Homo sapiens: one gene and its partners. The protein of the gene in region 1 purifies or fractionates together with the protein of each later gene. This does not show direct contact. Each region holds a gene or a part of one and is shown on either strand. Other genes may lie near its edges. The genes, in order: DNAJC16, IFT88 and KLC1.

The links.
Region 2: the proteins of DNAJC16 (region 1) and IFT88 purify together in Homo sapiens (co-immunoprecipitation; one large-scale study listed by IntAct). This does not show direct contact.
Region 3: the proteins of DNAJC16 (region 1) and KLC1 purify together in Homo sapiens (affinity purification with mass spectrometry, with the first as the bait; one large-scale study listed by BioGRID). This does not show direct contact.

The regions. Positions count from the first base shown.
Region 1 is NC_000001.11:15,557,672-15,561,401, reverse strand, and holds part of DNAJC16 (dnaJ homolog subfamily C member 16 isoform 1 precursor), read right to left. Parts: intron 1,877-3,730; coding exon 1,746-1,876; intron 1-1,745. UniProt on the Homo sapiens protein: Plays an important role in regulating the size of autophagosomes during the formation process.
Region 2 is NC_000013.11:20,601,657-20,605,156, forward strand, and holds part of IFT88 (intraflagellar transport protein 88 homolog), read left to right. Parts: intron 1-48; coding exon 49-277; intron 278-3,378; coding exon 3,379-3,449; intron 3,450-3,500. UniProt on the Homo sapiens protein: Positively regulates primary cilium biogenesis. Also involved in autophagy since it is required for trafficking of ATG16L and the expansion of the autophagic compartment.
Region 3 is NC_000014.9:103,653,031-103,656,760, reverse strand, and holds part of KLC1 (kinesin light chain 1), read right to left. Parts: intron 2,198-3,730; 5' UTR 2,197-2,197; coding exon 1,936-2,196; intron 1-1,935. UniProt on the Homo sapiens protein: Kinesin is a microtubule-associated force-producing protein that may play a role in organelle transport. The light chain may function in coupling of cargo to the heavy chain or in the modulation of its ATPase activity.

The DNA of each region.
Region 1 (3,730 bases):
GCAGGGCCTTTTAGAAACTATTTGTCCTAGTTCTTCCAGTATAGGGAGGGCTGGTCAAATCTCTCTCAGGCCAGAGGCCACTGAGCCTCATTCTGAACGGCTTCCTTTGCAAGGTTCCAATGGAAAGTTTAGCTATTCATTCTCCCAAAAATATTTACTGAGCACTTAGTATATGTCAGGTAATATAGACAATATTATTGCCCTCATGGAGCTTATATTCCAGTGGGGAAGACAGAAAACAGATATATTATGACAGGTATCAACAAGTGCTATATATTAAAAAAAAAAAAAAAGATGAAAAGGGGACAGAGAGAGGCCAGAGTGGGTAGAAGCCAGGCTCCATCAGACAGGTTGGTCAGGGAAGTGCCAACTGAAAAGGTGACATTGTTATGACAGGAAATGGGGTCAGAGCATCCCAGGTAGAGAGACTACAAGTGCAAAGACCCCAGGATGGGGAGTGACTGGATCTGATTTGCATTTTCAAACATTATTGGCTGACGTGTGGACATCTGCCTGGAGGGTACAAGAGTGGAATGGAGCAGAGAGACTAGTTAGAAGGCTGCCAGGGGGGTCTCGCTGGGAGACGATGGTGGCTTGTTCCAGGGTGGCAGTGGTTAAAAAAAGTGAGAAGTGTGTGGATTTGGGATATTTTTTGAAGGCTGTGTAAACAACAATCCTTACAGTCCAGGATATTCTTTTTTTATATTTAAGTCATTTTTTTCTTCGCTCTTAAGACTATAAAGGAATCTGAAAAGCCTAGACACACAGGGAAATTATGTTTTATATTTTCAAGTTACATGATTGATATGTTTTCCTTCCATATCCAGATACCTTTTACAGATGAAACAGCCCTAAATTTAAAGCTACTGATTCATTCACCTGAGAAGGTGTAATGAATACATTCCCTGAATTTCTAGACTTTTTAGATACTTTGTATAATAACTCTTCCTACTTTATTGAATACATGTAACTTAGCCTTCCCGATTCCCACCAATCCATTTCCTCAATACTCTGTACTTCCCTACTGTTTAATTGTTATCCTTGCTCCTTCCCAAGACCTCCAAAGACTCACCCTGTGTGGAATGCTTTAGTAGGGACAGTCACTCTTCCATATTCTGTGCTTCTGTAAAGTGACCCAGTCTATCCCAGACGCCTGGCTAAACTGTGCTCATCCTTCAGGTCTCAGCTGAAATGTTACATCTTAGGGAAATCTTCTCTGACCACTAGGACAGGCTGGCACATCTGACAATTTGGTGCTAAAGTGCCCTGGACTAATACATCATATTAGTATGATTACCATCACAGTCACTAATCAGTGTTTTTTTTTTTTTTTTTTTTGAGACAGAGTTTCACTCTTGTTGCCCAGGCTGGAGTGCAATGGCATGATCTCGGCTCACCGCAACCTCTGCCTCCCAGGTTCAAGTGATTCTCCTGCCTCAGCCTCCCTAGTAGCTGGGATTACAGGCATAAGCCACCATGCCCGGCTAATTTTGTATTTTTAGTAGAGATGGGGTTTCTCCATGTTGGTCAGGCTGGTCTTGAACTCCGGACCTCAGATGATCCGCCCTCCTCGGCCTCCCAAAGTGCTGGGATTACAGGCATGAGCCACCATGCCCGGCCCAGTATTTGTTAAATGAAGAATAAGTTCTCAATGTTACAGGGCAGATGTCTAGTCACCCTATAGTAAAATGAATCATGATCCTTCTATTGTAATAACAAGCAGAGGCAAAGCCTTAAGTCCTTACTTCCTCTGTCGATGCGACCGTTTCACAGGGCAGAGTTCATGGAACAACTTCTGGCTGGTGAGCCTGGCTGCCAATAGATATTTGTTTCGGGTGATGAAGTCGTCAATGATTTGCTTCTTCATACCTCGGGCCTAGAGAAAAACCAAGAATCAGCTAGATTTTATGCAGTGTTCTCAATGCAAATAGATGGGCTTTCTTTACTTACCAGCTTAATAAAAACGTAGCTGACCTTGGCTAAAGTAATATAACCAAACAAGACAGACCTGTTTGAGCGAATAAACATGTGGTGATCTATTTCAGCAATGCAGGGCTGAAAGCAATGATGCAGCTATTTCGGGTCAAAGGGAAAATCAAGTACACTTTCCACTGGAGAATTTTTATTCACTGTTTTATGCTGACAAATTAAAAAAGTCAGTCATGGCCGGACGTGGTGGCTCACATCTGAAATCCTAGAACTTTGGGAGGCTGAGGTGGGTAGATCACGAGGTCAGGAGTTTGAGACCAGCCTGGCCAACATAGTGAAACCCCGTCTCTGCTAAAAATACAGAAATTAGCCAGGCATGGTGACGTGTGTCTGTAGTCCCAGCTACTTGGAAGGCTGAGGCAAGAGAATCAGTTGAACCTGGGAGACGGAGGTTGCAGTGAGCCGAGATCACGCCACTGCACTTTAGCCTGGGCGACAGAGCGAGACTCCATCTCAAAAACAAAACAAAACCAAACACAAAACAAAACAAAAACCCAAAACGAAAAGTCAATCATTTTGAATTTTAGGCAAAATTATTTCCATTCAGGATTTGTAGCGAACTGGGCAATTAAAAATAAATCCCAAAGCAACAATGTTGCAAAGTATAAAAGGCAGGTTACAAAACCGTGTGACCATTTTATTGCTAACTTTCACACATTTCAAAGGATTGAAATCATTGACAGCAGGTATTCTGACCACAAGGTAATTAACCTAGAATTCCATTTAAAATGCAAACCAGAAATGTAAACATTTCCCTTTATGTTTGGAAATTAAGAAACACGGCCAGGTATGGAGGCTCATTCCTCTAACCCAAATGCTTTGGGAGGCCAAGGCAAGAGGATCCCTTGAACCCAAGAGTTAGAGACCAGCCTGTGCAACATGGAGAGATCCCATCTCTACAAAAAATTAAAAACAAACAAACAAAAGGCCAGGCACAGTGGCTCACTCCTATAATCCCCGAACTTTGGGAGGCCGAAGCAGGAGGATTGCTTGAGCTTAGAAGATCGAGACCAGCCTGGGCAACATAATGAGATCTTGTCTCTACTAAAAATAAAAAAACATTAGCCAGGCATGATGGTGGTGCATGCCTGCAATCCCAGCTACCTGGGAGGTGGAGGTGGGAGGACTGCTTGAGCCCAAGACTTAAGAGACTGCAGTGAGCTAGGATCACACCACTGGACTCTAGCCTGTGTGACAGACTGAGACCCTGTCTCAAGAAAAAAAAAAAAAAAAAAAAAAAAGGGCTGGGTATGGTGGCTCATGCCTGTAATCCCAGCACTTTGGGAAGTCAAGGCAGGTGGATCACTTGAGGTCAGGAGTTCAAGACCAGCCTGTGCAACATAGTGAAACCCTGTCTCTACTAAAAGTACAAAAATTAGCCAGGCGTGGCCTTAGTCCCAGCTACTCAGGAGGCTGAGGCAGGAGGACTGCTTGAGGCTGGGAGAGCATACCAGCCTGGGCAACGGGAGTGAAACCCTGTCTCATAAAAGAAAAAAAAGGAAAAAAAAAGTTGTTAGCTGGGCATGGTGGCATGTGCCTGTAGTCCCAGCTACTTGGGAGGTTGAAGGGTGAGGATCACTTGAGCATAGGAGGCCAAGGCTGCAGTGAGCCATGATGACATCACTACACTCCAGCCTGGGTGACAGAGCAAGACTGACTAAAAAAGAAAAAAAAAAAACCAAAACAAGAACGCCTATCAGATATTAGAAAATATTTTGAACTTTAATGACTGATGAAAAAT
Region 2 (3,500 bases), on another chromosome or scaffold:
ACTAAAGAGTTCAGAATTTTAAAGCTAATCCATGTCTTTTTCTTTTAGGATTAAAATAATGCAGAATATTGGAGTTACATTTATTCAGGCTGGTCAGTATTCAGATGCTATTAATTCATATGAGCACATAATGAGCATGGCACCAAATCTGAAGGCAGGCTACAACCTAACTATCTGTTATTTTGCTATTGGAGACCGAGAAAAAATGAAGAAGGCATTCCAAAAATTGATTACTGTTCCATTAGAAATTGATGAAGATAAATATATTTCACCAAGTGTGAGTATGAAAAAGACATTTCTGTAGCCACTTCCCACTTATCTGTGCTTTTCTGTTTTCAGAATGAGAAAGCCAGAATAGATGACTTCTTGGGTTTTTCCCAGGCCTGTATCAATGTGTTTTATTATTGATGTATTTCATTTTTTATTTAAATTGGGTTGAGAATGAGACTCTATTGAAATGGGGTAGAGATTATGGTTAAAACAGACTGCACAATTTTAGTAAAAAAATCATTAAAAATAAGATTCCATGTCATTCATTAAGCATAATATCTTTTTTTTTTTTTTTTTTTTGAGACAGAGAGCCTGCCTTCCAGGCTGGAGTGCAGTGGTGCAGTCTCAGCTCACTGCAATCTCTGCCTCCCAGGCTCTGGCAATTCTCATGCCTCAGCCTCCTGAGTAGCTGGGATTACAGGCATGCGCCACCATGCCCGGCTAAGTTTTTTATTTTTAGTAGAGAAGGGGTTTTGCCATGTTGCCCAGGCTGGTCTTGAACTCCTGGCCTCATGTGATCCACCTGCCTCCACTTTCCAAAGTGCTGGGATTACAGGTATGAGCCTGGCCAAGGGTAATATCTTGACCAAGAAACCTCCAAATCCTTATTTCACCTATTAAGAGCCATTGTGGAGCAGAGGGAACCTCAACTGTGTATAAATATCTCAAGAGCGAAGGCTGGGCGCAGTGGCTCACACCTGTAATTCCAGCACTTTGGGAGGCTGAGGTGGGCAGATTGCGAGGTCAGTAGTTTGAGACCAGCCTGACCAACAGGGCGAAATGCTGTCTCTACCGAAAATACAAAAATTAGCTGGGTATGGTGGTGGGCGCCTGTAATCCCAGCTACTTGGGAGGCTGAGGCAGGAGAATTGCTTGAACTTGGGAGGTGGAGGTTGCAGTGAGCCAAGATTGTGCCACTGCACTCCATCCTGGGTGACAGAGCAAGACTCTGTCTTGAAAAAAAAAAAGTGAAATAAATTCCTTATCCTTACTCATAGAGTGGAACATAATGCAGTTATCAAAAGTCATATTTTCAAACACCTAGAGAAATATTATATAATGTTAAGTGAAAACATACAGCTATGCACACTTATACATGAACATAAACTGGAAGAATTGACACCAATATAAAACAGTAGTTTCTGAGCTATGAGATTGTAAATGCTTTTGAAATATTTTCCAGATTTTTACAAATAAAATATTGGCATACTGTATATTAGTTTAAGGAAAATTGCCTCTATTTGTAGATAAAAATGGTACATTTTCAATTTCACAGAGTTGAACTTTTAATAGATTTTCTTAACAGATTATATTAGCTGGGCATGGTGGCGGGTGCCTGTAATCCCAGTTACTAGGGAGGCTGAGGCAGGAGAATCACTTGAACCCGGAAGGTGGAGGTTGCAGGAGCCGAGATCGCACTATTCACTCCAGCCTGGGTGACAAGAGCAAAACTCCATCTCAAAAAAAAAAAAAAAAAGATTATAAGAGTACTGTAGCATAGCAGAGTATAGGCTCTGAAGCCAGATGCCTTGGCTCTCCTACTCAGCTCTTACTCTCCCTGTGTCTCAGTTCTTTTATATATGTAATGGGATTAACTATTATAACCTATCTTACAGGGTTAAGGTGAGGATTATAGGTGAGGATTAAATGAGTTAATGCATGTGAAATGCTTAAAATAGTACCTGGCAGCTGGGCACAGTGGCTCACACCTGTAATCCCAGCACTTTGGGAGGCCGAGGTGGGAGGATTGCTTGAGCCTGAGAGTTCAAGATCAGCCTGCGCAACATGGCGAAACTCCATCTCTACAAAAAAATACGAAAATTAGCCAGGCTTGATGTTGCACACCTGTAGTCCCAGCTACTTGGGAGGCTGAGGTGGGAGGATCACCTGAGCCCGAGGAGGTCAAGGCTGCAGTGAGCCGTGATCACACCCCTGCACACTAGCTTGGGTGACAGAGTAAGACCTTGTCTCAAAAAAATAAAAAATTAGCCAGCCTGGTGGTGTGCACCTGTAGTCCCAGCTACTCTGGAGGCTGAGGTGGGAGGATCATCTAAGCCCGGGGAGGTCAAGGGTTTAGTGAGTTGTGATCACAACATTGCTCTCCAGCCTGGATGACAGAGTGAGACCTTGTCTCAAAAGTAAAATAACAAATAAAAAAAATATATATTAGCCAGGCATGGTGGCACATGTCTGTAGTCCCACCTACTCGAGAAGCTGAGTGGGAAGATGGCTTGAGCCCAGAAGTTGAGACTGCAGTGACCCATGATCATGCCACAGTGCTCCAGTCTGGGCAACAGAGCAAGACTCTGTCTCAAAACAAAACTAACCAAACAAAAAAAATGTATGTGAAAGATAGTTAAGTGCTGGGCAAATGTTAATTATTATATATTATTTTCATATTGAGAAAAAATAATATATGTTGTAAAATCATCTGTGTTTTTAATGGGGAGTAGAGATATGGATCATACTAAGTAATTGATGATTGAAGCATTTATATTTGAGTTTAGAATTAAAGTATTACATATTTGTACTAACAACCCCAGCTTCTGTGTACTTGGTCCTAATCTTTCCATCCTGATCCTTTTATCAGCTTCTTAGAATAGGTTAGTTCAATGGAGAATGTGATTGGTAATCAGAAATATGAAAAAGAAAGTTCTAATTTACATAAGGGAAAATAGAAGGATTAATTTACTCTCCCTTTTTTAAAACTAATTAGTAGGGAGGCTTATTGGAAATTCAAGTTCGTGGCTGGACATGATGGCTTATGCCTATAGTCCCAATACTTTGAAAGGCTGAGGTGAGCAAATTGCTTGAGCCAAGGAATTGAAGACCAGCCTGGGCAAAATGGTGAAACCTCATCTCTACAAAAAATACAAAAATTAGCCAGGCATCATGGCATGCCCCTGTAGTCCCAGCTACTTGGGAGGCTGAGGTGGGAGGATCACCTGAGCCCAGGGAGGTGGAGGCTGCAGTGAGCCATGATCATGCCACTGCACTGCAGCCTGGGCAATAGAGTGAGGCTGTATCTCAAAACAAAACAAAACAAAAATTAAGTTCTTGCTGTTTACTTCTGAATTATTCTTTTTTTCTTCCATTTTATTTTACCAGGATGATCCTCATACTAACTTAGTAACTGAAGCTATAAAAAATGATCACCTCAGGCAAATGGAACGTGAAAGGTAATATTTTAAACTTAATAACGTAGTTATTAATTACATTATTTAAAATAT
Region 3 (3,730 bases), on another chromosome or scaffold:
TCCTTCTTTTTTTAAAACTCTTATCTGCGACACCAAAAAAGCAAGTTTAAATTCATGTCACCTGTTCTCAAGGTAACAGAACTTGAGAAATAATACGTTCACAATATCCAAACAGAGCTACAGTTCTGCAACTCAAGGCTGTAACATGGTTAGGATGAAGACTCTAAAATCAGGGTGTGGGCAGTCACTTCCTCTATGAAAGCAGAAACCGCTGGCCAGCAGCCCCTCTTCTGCTCTATTCACTCACTAAACTAGAGAATGCTAAGAAAGAAGCAAAGCTTTGGTATATTTAATTTTACCTAAGATATGCTGACAGAGCCAGAAGTTATCAGGAGAGAGTATTTAAAAACCTAGATGTTTCCAGTGTTTTCATCTCTATGTCAAGCATGATATTATAGAAACAAAGGTTAGTCAAAGATATGAAGCAATCTGGCCCTGGGATTGCAGAGACCATCACCCACTGGCCAGTGTCCATTCTCCTTCCTTAGGCTTAAGGACCTGCCACTGTAAGTGGGAAGACAACATTCCCCAGTCTCCCACTCACCCAGGTACAGCCATAAGGTCTGGCCAATGCAATGTAAGCACTGCTGTACACATCATCAAAGCAGCAGCCTTCAAGGAAGGAGGCACGTCCTTCCTTTCCCTTCCCCTATGCTAGAACAGGGCCACATGGAGCTCACTCTCAGTCCCCAAGACAGGCTGCCAAGGTGCAGTGTGGCAGATGTTAGGAACCTGAGTATCCCCGATGACTGTGTAGCTACAGAACCCGTCCAGGAGAGTGTACCTCAGTACTTATTTGACAAACATCTTGTGGTTTAAGCCACTGTTTTTGTTTTTTTGATACTGGCAGCCAAATCAAATCCTAAATGATACACAGCAGTATCCACTATTTTGGATCCGCTTTTCAAAATTCAGAGAGGCCCTGAGGTCAGGAGTTCAAGACCAGCCTGGCCAACATTTTAGTTTCTACTAAAAATACAAAAAATTAGCCAGGAATGGTGGTATGTGCCTGTAATCCCAGCTACTTGGGAGGCTGAGGCAGGAGAATCACTTGAACCCGGGGGACAGAGGTTGCAGTGATCTGAGATTGAGCCATTGCACTCCAGCCTGGGCGGCGAGAGCAAACACTGTCTCAAAAAAATAAAAATAAAAATAAAATTCAGAGGCCGGGCATGGTGGCTCGCGCCTGTAATCCCAACACTTTGCTGAGGCAGGTGGATCACGTGAGGTTGGGAGTTCAAGACCAGCCTAACCAACATGGAGAAACCCTGTCTCTACTAAAAATACAAAATTAGCCAGGTGTGGTGGCCCATGCCTGTAATCCCAGCTACTTGGGAGGCTGAGGCAGGAGAATCATTTGAGCCCAGGAGGCAGAGGATGCAGTGAGCCGAGACTGCATCACTGCACTCCAGCCTGGGCAGCAAGAGCAAAACTCCATCTCAATCAATCAATCAATACAATTCTGATAGGCCCAAATCAATAGTAATTTATTAACATACAGAACACATGATCTGTTTTGTTTTGTTTTTTCTTTGAGAAAAAGTCTCGCTCTGTCACCCAGGCTGGAGTGCAGTGATGCAATTTTGGCTCCCTGCAACCTCTGCCTCCCAGGTTCAAGTGATTCTCCTGCCTCAAGCCTGCCTAGTAGCTGGATTACACACGCCAGCCACCAGGCCCGGCTAATTTTTGTATTTTTAGTAGAGTCAGGGTTTCGCTATGTTGGCCAGGCTGGTCTCAAACTCCTGACCTCAAGTGATCCACCTGCCTCAGCCTCCCAAAGTGCTTGGATTACAGGCCTGAGCCACACCGCACTCGGCCTGGATCTGTTATTCTATAATCATCTTTCCTCTTCTTTAGTGAAACTGCTTATTTCAAACAAGTCTCCATTTTACCATCAAAAGTTCCTGATAACGTCTGAGTCATTCTCACTCGTACCTGTGCCTCACTCAGGCCGAGCTCCAACATCTCCAGTGACTTCCGGATCATGTTTGATTTCTCCTCCACCAAATTACTTTCATCATCTTTCTTCAAACACTTCAGTGTCTCCAGCAAACTTTGTAAAATGGAATTGTGCTCATTCTTCAAAGCTTCCAGCCCCTGAATTACTTGCTTTGTCTTAGAAATAATTTCATCCTGTGTAAGCTTCTCCAACTTGTCTTCCTTTATGTACACCATTGTGGACATGTTGTCATACATTCTGGAATGAAAAAAGAAAAAGAAATTAGATCCCTCATTACAGGTTTCATTTCTGTTACATCAAGTAAATATGAAAATTTTTTAATTAACATTTTATAGGGGAATAATAAATATGCACATTTGTAATTTATGACCTTGAAATACCATATTCTGCAGTTTCTGTTTTTCCTTTGCAGACACATTTAATTACTTTTCTGGTTTATGTCTTAATTCTTTTTTATGACAGCAACTGAAATTAATGCCAAAGATTAAAAGCAGCAAAACATCTAAATGGCATTTCCAAAACACATAGCCTCGGTGAACAACATTTTTTCTCAGAATGTTTGCAAGCCTTTTTCTCTTCCTAATGAAATGCAGGAAGAACACTACATTCTTGGTAAAATGTTTAACTGGACAAAGGCTTGAAAAGGAGTCACACAGCTGGAAGAAGAAAGAAAAACCAGCCAAAGAACATGGAACAGGAAGAGCAGCAGGGGAGGAGCAGACCTGGAAGACACAGGGCATCAAGGACAGGTGCAGCACGGTCACCGGGCAGGCTCACAGATGAGGATGGCACAGCGAAGCACCACCAGGGCCAGGCCCAGGGTGATGTGATGCAATGTCTGGAAGGGGCTTTCAAACACCAAAGTGAGAAAGAAAAGGGGGAGGAAAGGGGAATATAAAAACAGCATCATTTGTGCTGTTGTGCCTGACAGCCGCTGTCACTGAGCAATGGTTCCCTCTGCTAGCCTCTCTCCTTTTTTCTAAGTCTTAAAAACCCATAGTTAAGTTTAAAAAACAGAAAGATAGTGAGCAGTGATCTTTTTCGGCACAGTGACAGGGATGGAGGCAAGATTACACGTCAGAGTTATTTCCTTCACAGCACTGCCACTGTCTAAAATCTCACGATTCATTAAGTGTCTAATGTCACCTTGAATATAAGCTCTTATTTAAAAAGGCAGGACAGCCAGGCATGGTGGCTCATTCCTATAATTCCAGCACTTTGGGAGGCCAAGGCAGGCGGATCACTTGATGGCAGGAGTTCAAAACCAGCCGGCCAACACGGCGAAACCCTGTCTCAACTAAAAATACAAAAATTAGGTGAGTGTGCTGGCACACGCCTGTGGTCCCAGCTACTCAGGGGGCTGAGGCACGAGAATCACTTGAGCCCGGGAGGCAGAGGTTGCAGTGAGCCAAGATCTCACTACTGCACTCCAGCCTGGGTGACAGAGCGAGACTCTGCCTAAATAAATAAATAAAAATAAATGAAGTAAAATTAGCTGGGTGGTATGTGCAGGTATTCCTTGCTACCCAGGAGGCTCAGTGAGGCACAAGGATCGCTTGAGTCCAGGAATTTGAGGTGACAGTCAGCTATGATGGTACCTCTGCACTCTAGCCTGGGTGACGGAGCAAGACCCTGTCTCTTTAAAAAATTCCCAAAAAAAGAAAAAAGGCAGGGACTTGATCTTGTAGGACTCCACAGCTTCTAGAGGCAGCTCCTGGCCCAGAAAGTCCATGTAGTGAATGGATGGACTGACAGACGCTGCATGAAGGG